Linked DNA regions of Homo sapiens: regions 1 and 2 are each linked to region 3. The links come from fine-mapping of genetic effects on gene expression. A gene starts in region 3. Each other region holds a variant in brackets. All regions are shown on one strand. Distances are from middle to middle. Region 1 has its middle 27 kb from the start of MTRES1. Region 2 has its middle 24 kb from the start of CD24. Region 3 holds the start of MTRES1 (mitochondrial transcription rescue factor 1).

Region 1 (7,403 bases), 27 kb after region 3:
GTTTTTATTTAAAATGTTCCCTGTCCAGCGGGGCCAGCTTCCCAGGTTCAGGTTTCTTTAGACAAAACCAAGCAAAGTCAAGGGTACCTTCAGATGTTAGGGGATAACCTCTGGGAGAGCCCTTTCTCCCCCTGCCCTTCTGAATTACCAGCGGGGGGCCTTAGTGCCCTTCAATTTGTCTTCACAAGTGTGGATGAATAAAGTTGTTCCAGCTAATTTCAAACCAGCTAGTTAGAGCCCATTTGAAATGATTAGTTTAGCAGGGGTCCATAAACGAAGGCAGCCAAAGACTTGTTTTTCTATGGCCCTTGAGCCAAGAATGGTTTTTACATCACACACACAGGCGCATGCACACACACACACAGCCAGAGACCTTCTGTGGCCCACAAAGCCTAAAATACTTACTTTAAAAAAACTAAATTTTTTGGCGGGGCACAGTGGCTTACACCTGCTAACTCGGCATTTTGGGAGGCCAAGGCAGGTGGATCACTTAATCCCAGGAGTTTGAGACCAGCCTGGGGCAACATAGTGAGACTTCGTCTCTCTCTTAAAAAAACGCCATATTTTTGTAGAGGAGGGTTCTCGCTCTTGCCCAGGCTGTTTCCAACTCCTGAGCTCAGGTGACTGTCTCACTTCGGCTTCCTAAAGTGCTGGGATTACAGGCATGAGCCACTATGCCTGGCCAAAGCCTAAAATATTTACTATCTACCCCTTTACAGAAAAAGTTTTTTGACCCCTAGTTTAGAGTAATAGGTAAGGGTTTAATTTTCGGGTGAAAGCAAACATACCTGTTTTATCAATGAAGAGAATAAAACCAATTCTAATTCTCAAAGTGTCATAAAATGGATGAAGGCTTAGCAGAGTAGTGTGGCGGGGTAGACACACACATAATGTACGTCATCTAAGAAAGGACTTGCGGATGAGTAGGCCAGGCTATAAATTCCCAGGAGCTGTTTCCTGGCACTTGGAGAGATCACCTCCAATAAGAGACTTGTTAGATTATGTCACATCGAAAAGACTGGCTGGTCCAGGCGCAGTGGCTCACGCCTGTAATCCCAACACTGTGGGAGGCTGAGACTTGAGGTCAGGAATTTGAGACCAGCCTGGCCAACACGGTGAAACCCCATGTCTACTAAAGATACAAAAATTAGCTGGGCATGGTGGCAGGCACCTATAATCCCAACTACTCAGGAGGCTGAGGCAGGAGAATCGCTTGAACCTGAGAGGCGGAGTTTGCAGTGAGCAGAGATCGCGCCCCTGCACTCCAGCCTGGGCAAAAAGAGCAAGACTCCATCTCAAAAAAAAGAAAAAAAAGACCCTGTATCTGGGCTCTTATTTGTCCCCCAGGAACTCCTGAGAATCCTTAACTGTCAGTGAAGAGAAACTTCTATAGCCCAAAGCAGTGGGATGTTTGGGCTCATGTGTCTGGAACTGTTAACCAGCTTGTTTTTCTTTCTCTTTTTTTTTTTGAGACGGACTCTTGCTCTGTCACCAGGCTGGAGTGCAGTGGCGTGATCTCGGCTCACTGCAACCTCTGCCTCCCGGGTTCAAGCGATTCTCCTGCCTCAGCCTCCCAAGTAGCTGGGAGTACAGGCACACACTACCAAGTCCAGCTAATTTTTGTATTTTTAGTAGAGACAGGGTTTTGCCACTGTTGGCCGGGATGGTCTCAATCTCTTAACCTCATGATCTGCCCGCCTCAGCCTCCCAAAGTGCTGGGATTGCAGGCGTGAGACACCGCACATGGCCTACCAGCTTGTTTTTCAAAAGACTCAAGAAAATTGATTTTTATTTGAAAAGTTAAACTCTCAGAAAGAAATAATATATACTATGCAGTGTAACGGGGGGTTTTCTATTTTACCATTTGTGAATTTGGCTTTCTTGAGTCATCAGTAAAAATAGTAGCTTAATTTCCACGCGTTATTTATGATTTTTTTTTTTTTTTTTTTTTTTAATGAGACGAGGTCTTACTCTGTCACCCAGGCTGGAGTGCAATGGTGTGATCTCGACTCACTGCAACCTCCACCACCTGGGTTCAGATTCTCCTGCCTCAGCCTGCCAAGTAGCTGGGATTACAGGCCCCTGCCACCATGCCCCCCAGATTTTTTTATATTTTTAGTAGAGACAGGGTTTCACCATGCTGGCCAGGCTGGTCTTGAACTCCCGACCTCAGGTGATCCATACACCGCAGCCTCCCAAAGTGCTGGGATTACAGGCATGAGCCACCACACCTGGTCTGAATTATAATTTAGGAAATTAGATGCCCATATCTTTTCTCATCTTCTCCTTCCTCCCACCTCCCCTTTACCTTCCCCCTCCCCCCTTCCTTCCCATCTCTGGACTTCTCTTTGGAAAGTGATCAGAAAATCTACGAAACCCTGGTTGGTGAGGGCAGCACAATCTAGTGATGTCAGGGGTCCTGGCATTCAGGCCCAGTCCTGCCATTAGTACACTGGGTTATCTTGGTCATAGTTTCACCTTAACCTCTCTGAGCTGGTTTCCTCACTGGTCAAATGGGGATCAAGGTACTGATTGTTCTTTTTTTTTTTTTTTTTTGAGACGGAGTCTCGCTCTGTCACCCAGGCTGGATGGAGTGCAGTGGCTCGATCTCGGCTCACTGCAAGCTCCGCCTCCAGGGTTCACGCCATTCTCCTGCCTCAGCCTCCTGAGTAGCTGGGACTACAGGCACTCACCACCACGCCTGGCTAATTTTTTGTATTTTCAGTAGAGACGGGGTTTCACCATGTTAGCCAGGATGGTCTCGATCTCCTAACCTCGTGATCCGCCCGCCTCGGCCTCCCAAAGTGCTGGGATTACAGGCGTGAGCCACCGCGCCTGGCCTAAGGTACTGATTGTTCTATCTTGTGTCTCAAAAAAGAAAGTTAAAATGAGTAGTATGAGGTAAGATGCATTGACAGTAGCTAGAAAACAGGGCCATTTGAAAGGCTTTTTGAAGTTCTATTGGTCATTAGTACCTCAACTTAGCTGCTTGGGAGGGTTTCATTGGCCCATTCAAACCTTCTGTTTTTTAAAAAAAACAAAGGCACTGTTCATGCCTGTAATCACAGCACTTTGGGAGGCCGAGGTGGGCGGATCACCTGAGGTTAGGAATTCGAGACCAGCCTGACTAACACAGTGAAACCTCATCTCTATTAAAAATCAAAAAAATGGCAGGGCATGGTGGGTCATGCCTGTAATCCCAGCACTTTGGGAGGCCAAGGCGGGTGGATAGCCTGAGGTCAGGAGTTCGAGACCAGCCTGGCCAACATGGTGAAAACCCATCTCTACTAAAAATACAAAAATTAGCCAGGCATGGTGGCGGGTGCCTGTAATCCCAGCTACTCGGGAGGCTGAGGCAGGAGAATCGCTTGAACCCGGGAGGTGGAGGTTGCAATGAGCCGAGACGGTGCCATTGCACTCCAGCCTGGGCGACAAGAGCAAGACTCCATCTCAAAAAAAAAAAA[A/G]GGGGGCTAGGTGCAGAGGCTCACGCCTGTAATCCCAGCACTTTGGGAGGCCAAGGCGGGCAGATCACAAGGTCAGGAGATCAAGACCATCCTGGCCAACATGGTGAAACCCCGTCTCTACTAAAACACAAAAAAACAATTAGCCAGGTGTGGTGGCGGGCGCCTGTAGTCCCAGCTATTCAGGAGGCAGAGGCAGGGGAATCGCTTGACCCCAGGAGGCAGAGGTTGCAGTGAGCAGAGATCACGCCACTGCACTCCAGCCTGGTGACAGAGCGAGACTCTGTCTCAAAAAAAATAAAAATTTTTTTAAAAATGAATAAAATAATATTATCCCCCAAATGTCTACTTTAAAAAAAATGTTAAAAATAATAAACTATTGCCTACCCATCTATGTAAATTTCCAGGGAAACTAGTAAATGCTATTTTAAAAAAATTTTTTTATTATCTTTTTATTTTTCCCTACTTTCAAGCTAACAAGTTATAGTAAATGCTGTTTGGCAGGGAAATGCAGTTAGCACCATGTTTCCTACAGGAGATCTGTTTCTTTTGAAAGGATTACCGTTACTGGTAAAAGAGCTGGCTGGGGTCAGGTGCAGTGGCTCACGCCTGTAATCCCAGCACTTTGGGAGGCCAAGGCGGGCGGATCACGAGGTCAGGAGATCGAGACCATCCTGGATAACACGGTGAAACCCCATCTCTACTAAAAATACAAAAAAAAAAAAAAAAGCTGGGCGTGGTGGCGGGCGCCTGTAGTCCCAGCTACTTGGGAGGCTGAGGCAGGAGAATGGTGTGAACCAAGGAGGCAGAGCTGGCAGTGAGCCGAGATTGCGCCACTGCACTCCAGCCTGGGCGACAGAGCGAGACTCCGTCTCAAAAAAAAAAAAAAAAAAAAAAAGAAGAAGAAGAGCTGGCTGGATAGTCCTCTTCCAAAAGTCATAACTTTAAATTGTTTCATCCTTTAAAAACTGCAGACACTAGCAATATTTTCAGACTTTCCTGGGAAAGCAAGAACTATATCTTAGATTAAAAAAAACAATTTGGGGTCGAGCACAGTGGCTCAGGCCTGTAATCCCAGCACTTTGGGAGGCTGAGGCGGGCAGATCATGAGGTCAAGAGGTCAAGACAATCCTGGCCAACATGGTGAAACCCGGTCTCTACTGAAAATACAAAAACTAGTTGGGCATAGTGGCACGTGCCTATAGTCCCAGCTACTCAGGAGGCTGAGGCAGGAGAATCACTTGAAACCGGGAGGCGGAGGTTGCAGTGACCCCAGATTATACCACTGCTCTCCAGCCTGGTGACAGAGCAAGACTCCGTCAAAAAAAAAAAAAGAAAATTTCTGGCTGGGCACAGTTGCTCACTCCTGTAATTCCTGTACTTTGGCAGGCCAAGGCGGGTGGATCAGGGTGATCCTGAGGTCAGGAGTTTGAGACCAGCCTGGCCAATATGATGAAACCCCGTCTCTACTAAAAATACAAAAAAATAGCTGGGTGTGGTGGCGGGCACCTGTAATCTCAACTACTCAGGAGGCTGAGGCAGGAGAATCACTTGAACCCGGGAGGGAGAGTTTGCAGTGAGCAGAGATCATGCCACTGCACTCCAGCCTGAGCAACAAGAGCGAATCTCCATCTCAAAAAACAAAACAAAAACACAATTCTTCCTTGTCACCCTAATTAGAACAGGGTTCCTCAACCTCAGCACTATTGACATTTTAAGTCAGATAGGTATTTGCTGTCCTGTATATTGGAGGGTGTTCAGCAGCATGCCTGGCCTCTACCTACACGAGGCCCACAGCACCTCTTCAGTCATGACCACCAAAAATATCTCCAGATATTGCCAAACTTCCCCAGCAGGAAAAATCATCTCCAGTTGAGAACCACTGCATTAGACATTTTTTTCTTTAATCTTTTCATATGTTGGTCACATTTTTCACTGAGGAAGCCTTGCCAGGACCACATTAAAAGGCAGTTATCATTTGGGTCTAGTAATGAGTTCCAAGAGCTCCATAAATCTTTATGAATTGCTTTCATGTTTCTCTGTTTCATAAAGATGTTCCAAGTCCTGACTAAATTTTTGTATTTTTAGTAGAGACGGGGTTTCAGCATGTTGGCCAGGATGGTCTCAATCTCCTGACCTCATGATCTGCCCGCCTCGGCCTCCCAAAGTGCTGGGATTACAGGTGTGAGCCACCGCGCCCGGCCTGGGGGATAATTTTAAAGTCATGGTTTATTTGGGCAATAGTCGTTGGGGAGGAGATAGAAACATTACTGGCTTTCAAGAAACTGGAAGTGCCGGGTGCAATGGCTCACACCTGTAATCCCAGCACTTTGGGAGGCAGAGGCAGGCAGATCACCTAAGGTCGGGAGTTCAAGACCAGCCTGACCAACATAGAGAAACCCCCATCTCTACTAAAAATACAAAAAAATTCGCCGGGCATGGTGGCGCACGCCTGTAATCCCAGCTACTCGGGAGGCTGAAGCAGGAGAATCGCTTGAACCCGGGAGGCGGAGGTTGCAGTGAGCCGAGATCGTGCCATTGTACTCCAGCCTGGGCAACAAGAGTGAAACTCTGTCTCAAAAAAAAAGAAAAGAAAAGAAAAGAAAGAAACTGGAAGAAAACATTTCAGTTCGGGGTGATGGTGTATGCTCCTGTAAAACATATTTTGCTGTTCTGTCCATATATTTTAAATTTTACAAATGGCATTATTATATTTCCTCTTGCATGTTCAGGATGTTTTTTAAGATCCATTCATGGCATTATGGGTACATTGAATCCACTGCTTCTCACTGCTGCAGGATAAAGACCAAAGTGCATCCACCATGCACTTTGCTTACCCATGCTCCCAGTGACACTGTCCCAAACTGTACCCAGTTCTCCTCTCGACAAATAACATAGCACTTCTATCCACCAGAATGGCTGCACTGGCTGCTTTCCCACAGGAGAGTGCCTTAGACCCATCACCTCAGCCCCTGGCATTACTCAGCTTTCTAATTTTTGCCAGTATAATACAGGTGTAAAGAGATGATTAATATTACTATTATTTTGAGACAGAGTTTCACTCTTGTCACCCAGGCTGGAGTGCAATGGTGCGATCTCGGCTCAGTACAACCTCTGCCTTCTGGGCTCAAGGGATTCTCCAGCCTTAGCCTCCCAAGTAGCTGGGATTATAAGTGACTGCCACCACGCCCAGCTAATTTTTGTATTTTTTTTTTCAAGACAGAGTCTTGCCCTGTCACCCAGGCTGGAATGCAATGGCACGATCTCGGCTCACTGCAACCTCCGCCTTCCAGGTTCAAATGATTCTCCTGCCTCAGCCTCCTGAGTAGCTGGGATTACAGGTGCCCGCCACCATGCCCAGCTATTTTTTTGTATTTTTAGTAGAGATGGGGTTTAACCATGTTGGTCAGGCTGATCTCGAACTCCTGACCTCGTGATCCACCCGCCTCAGCCTCCCAAAGTGCTGGGATTACAGGCCTGAGCCACCGCGCCCAGCCGTAAAGAGATTATTTTTTAACATGAACTCCTCATAACTTTTTTTTCTCCTTTTTTTTTTCTTGACATGAAGTCTCGCTCTGTCACCCAGGCTGGAGTGCAGTGGCATGATCTCAGCTCACTGCAACTCTGCCTCCCGGGTTCAAGCGATTCTCCTGCCTCAGCCTCCTGAGTAGCTGGGATTACAGGTGCGCACAACTACGCCCAGCTAATTTTTGTATTTTTAGTAGAGACGGGGTTTCACCATGTTGGTCAGGCTGGTCTCGAACTCCTGACCTCATGATCCACCTGCCTCAGCCTCCCAAAGTGCTGGGATTCTGTATGGATGCTGAGCCACCGCGCCCAGCATAACATCTTTCTTATACACACAAGCCTCACAGCCTGCTGCTTCTGCCTTTTGGTACGATCTTGGCTCACTGCACCCTCTGGCTCCTGGGTTCAAGCAAT
Region 2 (7,403 bases), 29 kb before region 3:
CCCGTCTCTACTAAAAATCCAAAACAATTAGCCGAGCATGGTGGCGGGCGCCTGTAGTCCCAGCTACTCAGGAGGCTGAGGCAGGAGAATGGTGTGAACCCGGGAGGCGGAGCTTGCATTGAGCCAAGATCGCGCCACTGCACTCCAGCCTGGGCAACAGAGCAAGACTCCATCTCAAAAAAAAAAAAAAAAAAATCCTTCAGGGTATATGGTGGGGATGTCTTGCCAGATAACAATAATTCAAGCATACCCTGAGAATGACCCCAGGTTCTCTTTCTTTGTTTTTTTGAGACAAAGTCTCACTCTGTCACCCAGGCTGGAGTGTAATAGTGCGATCTCAGCTCACTGCAACCTCCACCTCCCAGGCTCAAGTGATTCTCCTGCCTCAGCCTCCCGTGTAGCCAGTACTACAGGTGCACAGCACCGCATTGGGCTAATTTTTGTATTTTTGGTAGAGATTGGGTTTCACCATGTTGCCCAGGCTAGTCTCGAATGAGACCAGAGCTCAGGTGATCTGCCTGCCTCAGCTTCCAAAAGTGCTGGGATTACAGGTGTGAGCCACTGTACCAGGCCGTTTGTTTGTTTGTTTGTTTGTTTGTTTGTTTGAGACAGGGGTCTCACTGTGTTGCCCAGGCTGGTCTTGAACTGCTGGGCTCAAATGATCTTCCTGCCTCAGCCTCCCAAAGTGCTAAGATTACAGGCATGAGCTGCCATACATGGCTGACCCTATGTTCTTTGGTGAATGTTTGTTCACTGTTCTGAGCTATGGACTCTGGGAGAGGCCAACCTGGATGTTTACGCTGTACTTATGAAGGTGTGAAGGCTCAGAGCAGGGACACAGATGGGGGCATGAAGAACACCTGGACCCTGGCCTCGTTCCTTGGAACACAAGTCATACAAGAAGCCAGTGGCCTAGGCTGGGCACAGTGGCTTACGGCTGTAATCCCAGCACTTTGGGAGGCCAAGGCAGGCAGATCACTTGAGGTCAGGAGTTCGAGACCAGCCTTGCCAACATGGTGAAACCCCATCTCTACTAAAAAACATACAAAAATTAGCCGGGCATGGTGGCACGTGCCCACCATGCTACTCGGGAGGCTGAGGCATGAGAATCGCTTGAACCCAGGAGGCAGAGGTTACAGTGAGCCAAGATGGCACCACTGTGCTCCAGCCTGTGAGACAGAGTAAGACTCCTTCTCAAAAAAAGAAAAAAAAATAAATCAATGGCCTTTGTTTTAAGCTAGGTGGAGGTTGCTAAGTAGAGGTTGCTGTGTGGGAGTTCCTACTAACCTGCATGCTTTCCACAAAAGGCAGTGGAACTCCTGTCCAGCCTTCCACTCTTGGACACTCCATACATAAGTCCCCTGAATAAACTCTGTCTTTTTTTTTTTTTTTTTTTTTGAGATGGAGTTTCACTATTGTTGCCCAGGCTGCAGTGCAATGGCACAATCTTGGCTCACTGCAACCTCTGCCTCCTGGGTTCAAGTGATTCTCCTACCTCAGCCCCCTGAGTAGCTGGGATTACAGGCGTGCGCCACCATGCCCAGCTCATATTGTATTTTTAGTAGAGACCAGGTTTCTCCATGTTGATCAGGCTGGTCTCAAACTCCCGATCTCAGGTGATCTGCCCCTCTCAGCCTCCCAAAGTGCTGGGATTACAGGTGTGAGCCACCATGCCCGCCCTAAACTCTATGTCTTACCCACTGTCTTCAGGTCTTTTCTTCGGTCTCTCGGTGACTGTGCCTTCCCAGTTTGCCTGTTTGGGGGCCCAGCACAACACAAGGAAGAACGCAAGCCAAGGTCTTTCTTTGCTTGGATGATTTCTATGCATTTCTCAGGACCCAGATTAGTGTCATCTCCTTGGAAAGCCATCCCTTACCCTTCAGCCTTGGTTAGGGCCTTTCTGAAGTGTCCACCCCTGCATCCCCCAAGTCCCCAAGCTTTCCTCTGTCATTGTACGTGTAACAGGGATTGCAGCTTTTTCCTCACCAGCTGAGCTCCTTAAAGAAAGGAACCACATCATGTTCATCTTCCTTTCCCCAGTACCTAGTAAAGTGCCTAGTACATAATAAGTCCTCAGCAAATGAATTTCTACACAGGAACCACCAGAATCCAAGCACAATGAGAGGAAGGCCACCTTTTACTCTAACTCCGCCTACTCACTTTATCTTGAATTTATTAACATCCTAGGCTAAGAGCCATTTTATATCTCAACAGAAACAGCAATCTTAGAAAATATCTTCAAGTAACTCTTAAATTAGGATACTATTAAGCCTCCTGGCTAATCTTAGAGCCCTTCGATGGTAGTTTTTTGATTTATATAACCAGTTTCTAAAACACATCTTCACTCACTAATAAACCGACACGTATGTGGGTCATTCTTCTGAAATTTGTGTTTTATTCTAACTGTATATGAAGACTTTGATTTGGTTGTACATGAGAATTTAATCTTTCCACTATGGTGGTAATTTTTTATTTGTCTTAGAGCCTCAGATGTGGCCACCCTGGGTACAACAGGGCATATCATTTCTGTCTCATCTGTAACCTACAGGATCAAGCAGACCTGAGCTCAGATTTCAGCTCACCCACTTCCACCACAGACTTGCCTTTCTGAGCCTCCTGTAAAATGAAAATGATCATATTTATGCTGGAGAGTGTAACAGGATGTGAACATGGAAGTCCTTTCTGTCTCCATTTCAACCGAAGCTCAAAGGCCTTCAACAAAACAAGTTCTCAGGTTCCAAAGTGAGGTGCCAAGCGCCCCCTGCAGGAACTGCAGAGCAAAGGCGCTTTCTCCTCACCCCAGTCCAGTGAGAGGTGCTCTTAGGGGAATAACGGGAGAGACAAACACTTATCTCTTAGAGTTTAGTGGAAGAAGAAAAAAGAATGAGAAATTTAAAGGTCAAGGCTGTGCCAGAGCAGGAAAGGGGCTGCATCATGGGCAGCCTGCCCATCCTCCAACGTCAGCCAGAGACACTCAGCTCTACGTTCCAGACGTGGGCTCCCAGGAGAGCTCTCTGGGGTGCATTTTGAAAGGCCCCCAACCTGAGGTGACATTCTGCCATGGGCAAGCCAGCCTCAGCAGGGGCTGGAGGCGTTCCACAGAGCAGAAAGGGGGACGCGGTCGTGTGTGGGGGGCGTCAAAAGCAAGGCAGCAGCATTGCCCCAGTCAGGCCTGTTGCCACACTGGGGGCAGAGGGAAAGCTTTCTCTCTGCCCACTGAAGGTTTGCAGAGCATAAACTGATGAAATGCAGATACACAGGAGAAAAAGGCATACGAAATTTACTTAATGTGCATAGAAGAAAATCACAAGACTATGATTACCCAGTAACCCGATGAGGCCCGGCTGCTTATATTCTTCTCCATGGGGAAAGGGAGACAGGGGTTGTAGGAGTAAATGATTTCCAAAGGAAATGAATGAGCCAAAGAACGATGGCTGGGGACAAAGTTCCTTTGAGCACTGGGGAAGGCGGCAGGAAGGTGAGGGGTGGACTATTACTGTGAACAAGTGTTCTTTTTTTTTTTTTTTTTTTTTGAGACAGAGTCTCACTCTGTCACCCAGGCTGGAGTGCAGTGGCATGATCTTGGCTCACTGCAACCTCCACCTCCCGGGTTCAAGCAATTCTCCTGCCTCAGCCTCCCCAGTAGCTAGGACTACAGGTGCGCACCACAACGCCCGGCTAATGTTTGTATTTTTAGTAGAGACGGGGTTTCACCATGTTGGTCAGGCTGGTCTCAAACTCCTGACCTCAGGTGATCCACCTGCCTCAGTCTCCCAAAGTGCTGGGATTACACACACACATGAGCCACCGCCCAGACCATCAATGTTGTCTTATTATGCAGATAAAGTCTCCCAGGCAATCTCTCAGGGCTGCTGTCAGAAGAATAGTTAAAAGCTCCACCTGGTTCGGTGGCTCACCCCTGCAATCCCAGCACTTTCAGAGGCCGAGGCGGACAGATCACCTGAGGTCAGGAGTTTGAGACCAGCCTGGCCAACATGGGGAAACCCTGTCTCTACTAAATACAAACATTAGCCAGTGTGGATGCAAGTGCCTGTAATCCCAGCTACTGGGGAGGCTGAGGCAGGATAATCACTTGAACCTGGGAATTGGAGGTTGCAGTGAGCCAAGATCAAGCCACTGCACTCCAACCTGGGTGACAGAGGGAGACTCCGTCTCAAAAAAAAAAAAAAAAGAAGAAGAATAGTTGAAGGCTGCGTACAGTGGCTCACACCTTTAACCCAGCACTTTGGGAGGCTGAGGTAGGAGGGCCCTTTCAGCCCAGTAGTTTGAGACCAGCCGGGGCAACATGACAAAACCCTGTGTCTACACACACACACACACACACACACACACACATACACACAAACACAAAAGCCAGGCACACAGCTGTAGTCCCAGCTACTCTGGAGGCTGAAGT[G/A]GTGGAGGCTGAGTTAGGAGGATTGCTTGACCCTGGAAGGTAGAGGCTGCAGTGAGCTGTAATCTCGCTACTGTACTCCACACTGGTTGACAGAGTGAGCTGCTGTCTCAAAAAAAATTTTTTTTGGCCGGGAGCGGTGGCTCACGCCTGTAATCCCAGCACTTTGAGAGGCCAAGGCGGGTGGATCACAAGGTCAGGAGCTCGAGACCAGCCTGGCCAAGATGGTGAAACCCCATCTCTACTAAAAATACAAAAATGAGCCGGGCACAGTGGCAGGTGCCTGTAATCCCAGCTACTTGGGAGGCTGAGGCAGGAGAATAGCTTGAACCCAGGAGGCAGAAGTTGCAGTGAACCAAGATCGCACACTCTAGCCTGGGCAACAGAGCAAGACTCTGTCTCAAAAAAAAAGGTTTTTTTTACTAATAATTTAAAATTTACATAATAAAATAAAAATAGATGGAAAGTCTATCTGGGTATGGTGATGACTCCCAGTCTCTTCTATTCTCGGGTAGTTGATCATTCCTGGCTATCTGATGAGGTTCCTAGAGAGAGGGGTCTTAAAATAATTGCATTTATTTTGGAAAGAAGCTTTGTTAGTCAGATAAGGAAATTCCAGAGAGAGTTCCTGGGAAAGAAAGAGAAACAAAGAGACAGAAAAGCTGGGAAAAGTCAAGAGAGGGAACTTGGTTCTGAGGCTTATCTCTGAGGCCTTTCAATTTCAAGAAGTAAACTCCATGAGTTTGAAAGAGTTGGCTTAATCTTCTCAGTGTACACAATCAAATATGTACATAATTATATACGTACATAATCGTATAAATTCAGTGTATATAATTGTATAAATTTATGAAAGTTGTTATCCCCTACTGTTTCCCAGAAAACCCTTGACTCGGAGATGGGAAGAACTTGCATTCATTGTGCACCCCTTAGACAACTGTCTGTTCCATCACACACCAAGGCCTTCATGGACATCTCTGGCCCTGCTGAAATGGAATAAAGAAACTCCCGGCCAGGCGCGGTGGCTCACACCTGTAATCCCAGCACTTTGGGAGGGTGAGGCGGGCAGATTACGATGTCAAGAAATTGAGACCATTCTAGCCAACATGGTGAAACCCCGTCTCTACTAAAAATACAAAAATTAACCGGGCGTGGTGGTGGACATCTGTAGTCCGAGCTACTCGGGAAACTGAGGCAGGAGAATTGCTTGCACTAGGAGGTGGAGGTTTCAGTGAGCCGAGATCGCGCCACTGTACTCCACCCTGGGTGACAGAGCAAGACTCTCTCAAAAAAAAAAAAAAAAAAAAAAAAGTAAGCATTTGGTCTAAATTATGCAAGTCAGATATTAAGTTTACTAAATGCTTTAAGGTCATAAAGTGCTTCTTTGTCTTTTGAAAATTGTTCAATTTACCTACTTTGGAGCATTAGATTCTAAATAAAGACTAGGATATGTGGAATTAGCCATGCCCCCTAGCTATGCAAAGAAGGTTATAAAGAAAAGATTTTAAGGCTGGGTGTGGTGGCTCACACTCATAATCCCAGCATTTTGGGAGGCCGAGGAGGGTGGATTACTTGAGGTCAGGAGTTTTAGACTAGCCTGGCCAACATGGCAAAACCCCATCTCTACTGAAAATACAAAAATGAGCCGGGAGTGGTGTCAGGCACCTGTAATCTCAGCTACTCAGGAGGCTGAGGCAGGAGAACCATTTCAACCCGGGAGGTGGAGGTTGTAGTGAGCCAAGATCGGGCCACTGCACTCCAGCCTGGGCGATAGGGCAAGACTCTGTCTCAAAAAAAAAAGAAAGAAAAGAAAAGAAATAAAAGAAGAAATTTTGTATAAGAAAGGATGTTGTATGGTGAATACTTGTCCTAAAGTAAAATGACTGATTGCTTTAAAAAAGGGAATTTATGCAAGAAATATATAAGTTAAAGGTTTCTGGGTCTCCTAAATGCTTCATAAAATGCCATTAGGACTCTTAACTGTACAACTTTCCTGCTTTACAGCTAGATAAGGCCTGGGACACATGAAGTTAGACAACGAAAAGAGTCAGACCTTATCTGCACTTCTGTCTACTGTCACAGGCTCCACACCTAGCACATAATTAAAAATCTGAACTCAACCAGGCACAGTGGCTCACGCCTGTAATCCCAGAACTTTGGGAGTCCGAGACAGGTGGATCACGAGGTCAAGAGATTGAGACCATCCTGGCCAACATGGTAAAACCCTGTCTCTACTAAAAATACAAAATTTAACTAGGCATGGTGGTGCTACTTGGGAGGCTGTGGGAGGAGAATCACTTGAACCCGGGAGGCTGCGGTTACAGTGAGCTGAGATCGGGCCACTGCACTCCAGCCTGGCAACAGAGCAAGACTCCGTCTAAAAAAAAAATTCTGAACTTACCAAGGTTTTCACCAAAAGTAAAAGTTGCTAAGAGTTAACAGTGTAACATATATTTGGGACTACTAAAAAAAAAGTTATACGTGCAAGGTGTATAGAAAAAGTGAAATGTGGCCGGGTGCGGTGGCTCATACCTGTAATCCCAGCACTTTGGGAGGCCAAGGCGGGCGGATCACCTGAGGTCAGGAATTCGAGACCAGCCTCAACATGGAGAAACCCCGTCTCTACTAAAAATACAAAATTAGCCGGGCGTGGTGGTGCATGCTTATAATCCCAGCTACTCAGGAGGCTGAGGCAGGAGAATTGCTTGAACCTGGGAGGTGGACGTTGCAGTGAGCCGAGATCACACCATTGCACTCCAGCCTGGGCAACAAGAGCGAAACTCTGTCTCAAAACAAAAAAAAAGTGAAGTGTGTTTTTGGTAAAAGATAAGAAGTCATGGGAATGTGGATTTTTTTTTTTTTTTGCCTAGATTAAAGGGTTAAAGAATTGTTTTGAGTGAGATAGGAAAAATCTAAAGGTTTAAACAAGTTATGAGAGATTTGCGAAAAAAATTAAATGTAAAAAAAAATTCTGTGTGTGAACATATTGGCT
Region 3 (7,403 bases):
GTTGCCCAGGCTGGAGTGCCTGTTCCTGAGGTCAGGAACTGGAGACTAGCCTGGCCAACGTGGTGAAACCCTGCCTCTACTAAAAATACAAAAATTAGCTGGGCATGGTGACGGGCACCTGTAATCCCAGCTACTCAGGAGGCTGAGGCAGAAGAATTGCTTGAACCCAGCAGGCAGAGGTTGCAGTGAGCTGAGATTGGGCCACTGCACTCCAGCCTGGGCAACAGGGTGAGACTCCAACTCAAAAGTTAAATAAAATGAAATAAAAATAAATAAAAACATTGATGGGGCCAGGTCTGGTGGCTCACGCCTGTAATCCCAGCACTTTGGGAGGTCAAGGCGGGCAGATCACCTGAGGCTTGAAGTTCGAGATCAGCCTGGCTAACATGGTGAAACCCCATCTCTACGAAGAATACAACAATTAGAGGGCTGAGGTGGGAGGATTGCTTAAGCCTGGGAGTTCGAGGCTACAGTAAGCCAAGATGGCACCACTGTATTCCAGCCTAGGTGACAAAGTGAGGCCCTGTCTCAAAAAAATAATTAAATAAATAATTACACCGATGGAAAATCAGGTTGTTTTCATTTTTTAGTATCATACAAATAAAGCTGCAGTGCATATCTCTGTACATGTAGATTTATTCCATTCTCAAACAACTCTTATTTATTCAGAACCTACTATGTGCTAGTCACAGTTCTAGGCATTGGATACAGCAGTACGTTAAACATGATTTTTACCCTGATAGGGCTCACATTCTAGTGGGAGTAGACAGAAGAGTTAAATAAGTGGGAAACATATTAGATAGTGATTAGTGTTGTGAAGAAAAATTGAAAAATTTTAGGACATTTAATAATTTTTTTAGGCTGGATCAAAAATATTCTCTTGATCCTTCTGGTCTCAAACTCCTGGGTTCAAGCAATCCTCCTGCCTCAGAGTCCTGAGTAACTGGGACTAGAGACACATGCCATCACGTAGGGGGTTAATTTAAAATAGTATAATTAAGAGAATGCCTCACTTAGAAAATGACATTTGTGTGAAAACCTGAAGGAAGTATGGAAACAAATCACGTGGTCAGCTGAGGGAAGAGGATTCCAGATGGAGGGAAGAAAGTGTGCAAAAGCCCTAAAGCAAGACATCATCTGAGGTTTCCAGGGACCTCATCCGGGAATGGCAAGGAGGCAAGTATGGCTGAACCCAGAGAGGGAGGAGGAAGGTGGTGGGAGATGAGGTCAGTAGTGTAGATGAGGTCAGCAATGTAGGTGAGTTCAGATGCAGAAGGCCTCACCAGCCATTGAAAGGATTTTGGCTTTAACTGTAACATAAGGTGGGTAGCCTGGGATGGTTTTGGGTTTTTGGTTTTTTGTTTGTTTGTTTGTTTGTTTGTTTGAGATGGAGTCTCGCTCTGTCACCCAGGCTGGAGTGCAGTGGCGCGATCTCGGCTCAATGCAACCTCCGCCTCCCAGGTTCAAGTTATTCTCCTGCCTCAGCCTCCTGAGTAGCTGGGATTACAGGCGCACACCACCACGCCCGGCTAATTTTTGTATTTTTAGTAGAGAAAGGGTTTCACTATGTTGGTCAGGCGGGTCTCAAACTCATGACCTCATGATCTGCCCGCCTCGGCCTCCCAAGGTGTTGGAGTTACAGGTATAAGCCACCGCGCCCAGCCCAGGAGGATTTTAAGTAATGACAGGATTTGATTTGTGATTTAATAGGATCACTCTGGTTATTGTCCTGAGGATAGCCTGAAGAAAGGTAAGCCGCCAGGCGTGGTGGCTCACACCTATAATCCCAGAACTTTGGGAGGCTGAGGCGGTGGATGACCTGAGGTCAGGAGTTTGAGACCAGCCTGACCAACATGGTAAAACCCCATCTCTACTAAAAATACAAAAATTAGCTAGGTGTGGTGGTGCACGCCTCTAATCCCAGGTGAGACAGAAAGGGAGAAATTGAGTGTATCTCTAAGATATCTGACCTAAGTAACAGGAAGGGTGGAAGACTCATTAACTGAAATAAGGAATGCTGTGGGAGGAACGCATTGAGACCCGGATCTGGGTTTTGGTCCTATCAAGTTTGAGATTTCCGTTAGATTTCCAAGTGAAGATGTTAAGTAGGCAGTTGTAGTCTTGAATGCAAGAGAATGATCTCGGCTCGCAATACAAATTTGAGGATCGTCCATATATAGATAATATTTAAAGCCACGAAATTGTTGGAGATCGACTGGGGAACTAGGATAGATAAAAAGGAAAAAGATTAGAGGTCTAAGTATGGGGCACTTACTCTTTGGCATTCTAAGGATGTAATGAAAAAACAGCTGGCTGGGAGTGGTGGCTCATGCCTGTAATCCCAGCACTTTGAGATGCCAAGGCAGGTGGATCACTTGAGGTCAGGAGTTTGAGACAAGCCTGGCCAATATTGGTGAAACCCTGTCTCTATTAAAACTACAAAAATTAGCCGGGCATGGTGGTGCGTACCTGTAGTCCCAACTACTAAGGAGGCTGAGGCAGGAGAATCGCTTGAACCCGAGAGTGAAGGTTGCAGTGAGCAGAGATCATGCCATTGCACACCAGCCTGGGGGCCAGAGCAGGCCTCATTCTCAAAAACAAAAAAACAAAACAAAACAAAAGAAAAAACAGGGAAGAAGATTAAGTGGCAAGTGAGGTAGGTGAAACCAATGGGGTATCCTATAACTCAAGTAAGTTGAGGAATGAGACCAGACCTTTGGATTTACATTGCAGAGGTCATCTGTGACTTTGACTAGAAGTTTTGTTAGAATGTTGCAGGGTGACATCTTGTTTGGTGTATGAGTCAGAGTTCTCCACAGACAGACCTAATGAGAGAGGGATGGATGGATGGATGGATGGATGGATGGACGAATGGATGGATAGTTGGTTGGGAGGGAAAGGGGAATTGGCTCACGTGTAAATTGCGTTGGTCTTGAAAAGATGTTTCCTTAAACTGCGAGTCTGACGTATTTGCACATTTTTCTGGAAACAACGCCTATATCTCTTGGAGATGTTCAAAGAGGGCGGGCTCGGTGGCTTACACCTGTAATCCCAGCACTTTAAGAGGCTGAGGCTGGAAGATCGCTTCTCTTGAGTCCCAGCCTGGGCAATATGGCGAAACCCCATCTCTACAAACAAAACAAAACAAAACAAAAATTAGCAGGCCGTGGTGGCACACACCTGGAGTCCCAGGTACTGGGGAGGCTGAGGTGGGGAGAACAGCTTGAGCCTGGGTAGCAGAGGTTGCAGTGAGCCGAGATCGCACCATTGCACTCCGGGCAACAGAGTGAGACCCTGTCAAAAAAAAAAATGTTCAAAGGGGTTAGTGGTCCCAGAGAAAGGATCACTTCATTAATAATTAAGATGATTAGCCGGTCATGGTGGCTCACGCCTGTAGTCCCAGCTACTTAGGAGACTGAGGAACGACAATCGCTTGAACCCGGGAGGCGGAGGTCGCAGTGAGCTGAGATTACGCCGCTGCACTCCAGCCTGGGCAAGAGTGAGACTCGGTTTCAAAAAAAAAAAAAAAAGAAAAAAGAATTAAGATGGCCGGGCGCGGTGGCTCACGCCTGTAATCCCAGCACTTTGGGAGGCCGAGGAGAGCGGATCACGAGGGCGGGAGATCGAGACCATCCTGGCTAAAACGGTGAAACCCTGTCTCTGCTAAAAACACAAAAAAATTAGCCGGGCGTGGTGGTGGGCGCCTGTAGTCCCAGCTACTCAGGAGGCTGAGGCAGGAGAATGGCGTGAACCCGGGAGAATGGTGTGCCCCGAGCCTACTTCCCGCGCAGTCCTCCAAGACGCGGCCTCCAGCAGGGGTCGCTGCTTCGCTGCCGCCCTGGCCTCGCGCCCCGCCCGACCCGCTCTCACTGCGCCGGCGCCGGCGGAAGGGGCGGGGCGCAGATAGGGGTAGCCTGGAGGCCTGCAGTCCGCGCGGCCGCGGGGAGGGACGAGAGGGCCTGACGTACAGGTGAGTGCGCCTCTGCTGGCGCGCCGCGCCGGGCCCCCTGCCCGCGCCCCCTGTCACTTCGCCTCTCCGCCCCGCCCACGCTCCCGCCGGGTCTCCCCGTGAGTGTCCCGTGTCCTGCCAGCCTCGGGACGCCCCGCGAGCTCAGGGCTGCGCAGGGACTGTGGTAATTGAGCGCGGCGAAGCCTTCCGTTCCTGCCTCCTGTCGCTCCTGCTGGCTCCGAATGCAGACTGCGAACCCGGGGACGCAGTTGTCCATTTCCTTTGACCTTGGGGACCCAGGAAGGTGCACTGCCCGCGGGGGTGGGGAGGGAGCGAGAGGAATCCGACCCTGTCTCAGCCCACAGCCTCCGAGGTCTCCAAGTAAAGGGAAGGATCTTTAGCTGCATTAGACTTCAAAGCGTTTAGACCAGTTTCTCCATCTTACGGAGCGGTGAACGGGCTCAGGAATGTGGAGCGTTTCCTGGCGTCAAGCAGGTCAAAGTCAGCGCTGCTTTTTTTACAGACACTGCTTTTCTTACAGTCTTCGGTTAGTTCAGATTGTATACCTCTCCTGAAGATGTCACCCAAAACCTCCTATGGGATTCTGCCGTGATCATCTCTCCACTCATCCCACACCAACGCCAAAGAGATCTTTTAAAATGAACTTCCATCAGGTCACTTCCCAGGGTCCATCATTGCGTGTTCTTTTCCTGATTCATTCGAATGCACCCGTCCTCCTGATCAATTTTTATTCCACAGGGTGTTGTTTTGTTTTGTTTTGTTTTGTTTTTTTGAGACGGAGTCTTGCTCTGTCGCCCAGGCTGGAGTGCAATGGCGGGATCTCGGCTCACTGCAAGCTCCGCCTCCCAGGTTCACGCCATTCTCCTGCCTCAGCCTCCCCAGCAGCTGGGACTACAGGCGCACACCGCCACACCCGGCTATTTTTTTTTTTTTTGAGACGCAGTCTCGCTCTGTCGCCCAGGCTGGAGTGCAGTGGCGCGATCTCTGCTCACTGCAAGCTCCGCCTCCCGGGTTCACGCCATTCTCCCGCCTCAGCCTCCCGAGTAGCTGGGACTACAGGCGCCTGCCACCACGCCCGGCTAATTTTTTGTATTTTTAGTAGAGACGGGGTTTCACCGTGTTAGCCAGGATGGTCTCGATTTCCTGACTTCCTGATCCGCACGCCTAAGCCTCCGACAGTGCTGGGATTACAGGCGTGAGCCACCGCGCCCGGCCTGTTTTGTTGTTTTTTTTTTTGACACTCGCTCTGTCGCCGAGGCTAGAATGCACTGGTGTGAACTCGGCTCACTGCAGCCTCCCCCTCCCAGGTTCAAGCGATTCTTCAGCCTCAGCCTCCCAAATAGCTGTGACTACAGGTGTGCACCACCACGCTTGGCTAATTTTTGTATTTTTAGTAGAGACGAGGTTTCACCATGTTGACCAGGCTGGTCTTGAACTCCTGGCCTCAAGTGATCCGCCCGCCTCAGCCTCCCCAAGTACTGGAATTACAGGCATGAGCCACCGCGCCCATACTATTTTTATTTTAGATCTCACTGTGTTGCCCAGGCTGATCTCAAACTCTTGGACACAAGCGAGTCTCCTGCCTTGGCCTCCCAAAGTGCTGGGATTATAGGCGTGAGCCACCTGCCTGACCTCATCTTGCCCTCTCAATCCCCCTTACCCTGCTCCACTTTCTTCCCCCAGTGCATTAACCACCAGCTATCATATAATTTACAGGGTGTTTTTTTTTTTGTCTACCTGTTTCCCCTACTAGACTATAAACTCTACAAGAATAGGAATCTTCGTATTTTTTTCCTCTGCTGAATTCCTAGTGCCCAGATTAGTGCTTGGCACATGGTAAGTGCTTAATTAAGGGGAGGATGCCAGTGTTGCTGAAGCTGAATTTGCAAGAGTCAAATTGGCAGATGAGGTTGGAGAGGAAATGGGGGTTGAGGGAGCACCAGATCCTATAGAGCCTTTAGACCATCGTAGAGACTTTGCTGTTCTCTGAGTGCTTTGGTAGGGATTTGAGGAAAGGAGTGACATCGTATGAATGACTTTATTATGTGCCCACGTGGAGGTGTCAAATAGGCAGCTATTGTGTTGCAGGTCCCCAGGTTCATTGATTCACTAAGAGGACTCAAAAGACTCAGCACGTAGTCATACTCACAGCTGTGATTTATTATAGCAAAAGGATACAAAGCAAAATAAGCAAAGGGAAAAGATGCATGGGACACAGTCTGGAGGAAACCCGGTGCAGTCTTCTAAGAGTCCTCTCCTAGTGGAGTCACATGGGGTATGCTTAATTCTTGCAGCATCAAATTATGACAAGACGTGAGAGATCTATCAGGAAAGCTTGTAGAGCTCATTTTTCCAATAAAAAGTCACATAGGCACTGTCTGCCTAGAATGTGCCAAAATTTCCGCCGCCCAGAAAAAAAGCAGGTGTTTAGAATCACATTGTACAGTTTCCAGCACAGTGAGCCACTCTTATCCAGGTGGGAATTGTGGGAACCCTCGTGAAGTTCAAGTTCTGAGACACTAGCCAAGGGCCAACTTTGCAAGCAGGCATTCTAAGGATAGCAGTCTCAGGCCTGTTATGTTAACTCGTTTCTGCACAGATGTACGAGTCTGGAATTTGGGAGAAAGTTCTGGAATGGGGATATAGATTAGGGTGTGGTTGGCATATAGGTGGTATTTAAAGCCACAGAAATGATTGATGTCTTGATAATGCATTTGTAAGAACTAATTGGGTACATTTAAGAGCTGAGCTGGATAAAGTGAATGTAGAAGAGAAGAGGACCAAAGATAGAGCCCTGGGCCGCTCCAACTTTAAGATATCAGGGAGGGCCGGGCACAGTGGCTCAGGCCTGTAATCCTAGCACTTTGGGAGGCTGAGGTGGGCGGGTCACTTGAGGTCAGGATTTCCAGACCAGCCTGGCCAAGGTGGTGAAACCCTGTGTCTACTAAAAATATAAAAAGTGGCCGGGTGTGGTGGTGGGCGCCTGTAATCCCAGCTACTCTGGAGGCTGAGGTGGGAGACTATGGCTTGAACTGGGGAGGCAGAGGTTGCAGTGAGCCAAGATCGCGCCACCCACTGCATTCCAGCCTGGGCAACAGAGGAAGACCCTGTCTCAAAAAAAAAAAAAAGAAAAAAAAAGAAAAAAGGAGAAGAGAAGGAGGCAGCAAAGGAGTCTTTTCTTTTTTTTTTTTTTGAGATAGAGTTTCGCTCCTGTTGCCCAGGCTGGAGTGCAATGGCTTCGGCTCACTGCAGCCTCCGCCTCCCAGGTTCAAGTGATTCTCCTGCCTCAACCTCCTGAGTAGCTAGGATTACAGATGCCTGCCATCGTGCCCAGCTATTTTTTTTTTTTGAGACGTCTCACTCTTGTTGTCCAGGCTGGAGTGCAATGGCGCAATCTCAGCTCACTGCAACCTCTGCCTCCCGGGTTCAAGCG

What was found. PIP is the estimated chance that this variant, and not a neighbour inherited with it, causes the effect. A credible set is the group of variants that fine-mapping cannot tell apart.
Region 1: its variant is the best candidate, but not a certain one, in a credible set for the expression of MTRES1 in CD4 T cells (BLUEPRINT, PIP 0.81).
Region 2: its variant is the best candidate, but not a certain one, in a credible set for the expression of MTRES1 in unexposed skin (GTEx, PIP 0.68).

The regions. Positions count from the first base shown.
Region 1 is chr6:107,051,589-107,058,991 of GRCh38, forward strand. No RefSeq gene overlaps it. Among named protein-coding and RNA genes, the nearest start is that of MTRES1, 27 kb to the left of the region's middle. The variant A/G (reference allele first, on the strand shown) is at 3,465.
Region 2 is chr6:106,995,045-107,002,447 of GRCh38, forward strand. No RefSeq gene overlaps it. Among named protein-coding and RNA genes, the nearest start is that of CD24, 24 kb to the left of the region's middle. The variant G/A (reference allele first, on the strand shown) is at 4,418.
Region 3 is chr6:107,024,302-107,031,704 of GRCh38, forward strand. It overlaps MTRES1 (mitochondrial transcription rescue factor 1), which reads left to right and starts at 3,898. Exons shown (of 4, transcript NM_016487.5): 1 at 3,898-3,970. RefSeq lists a silencer at 3,717-4,186 and enhancers at 4,297-4,406, 4,517-4,616.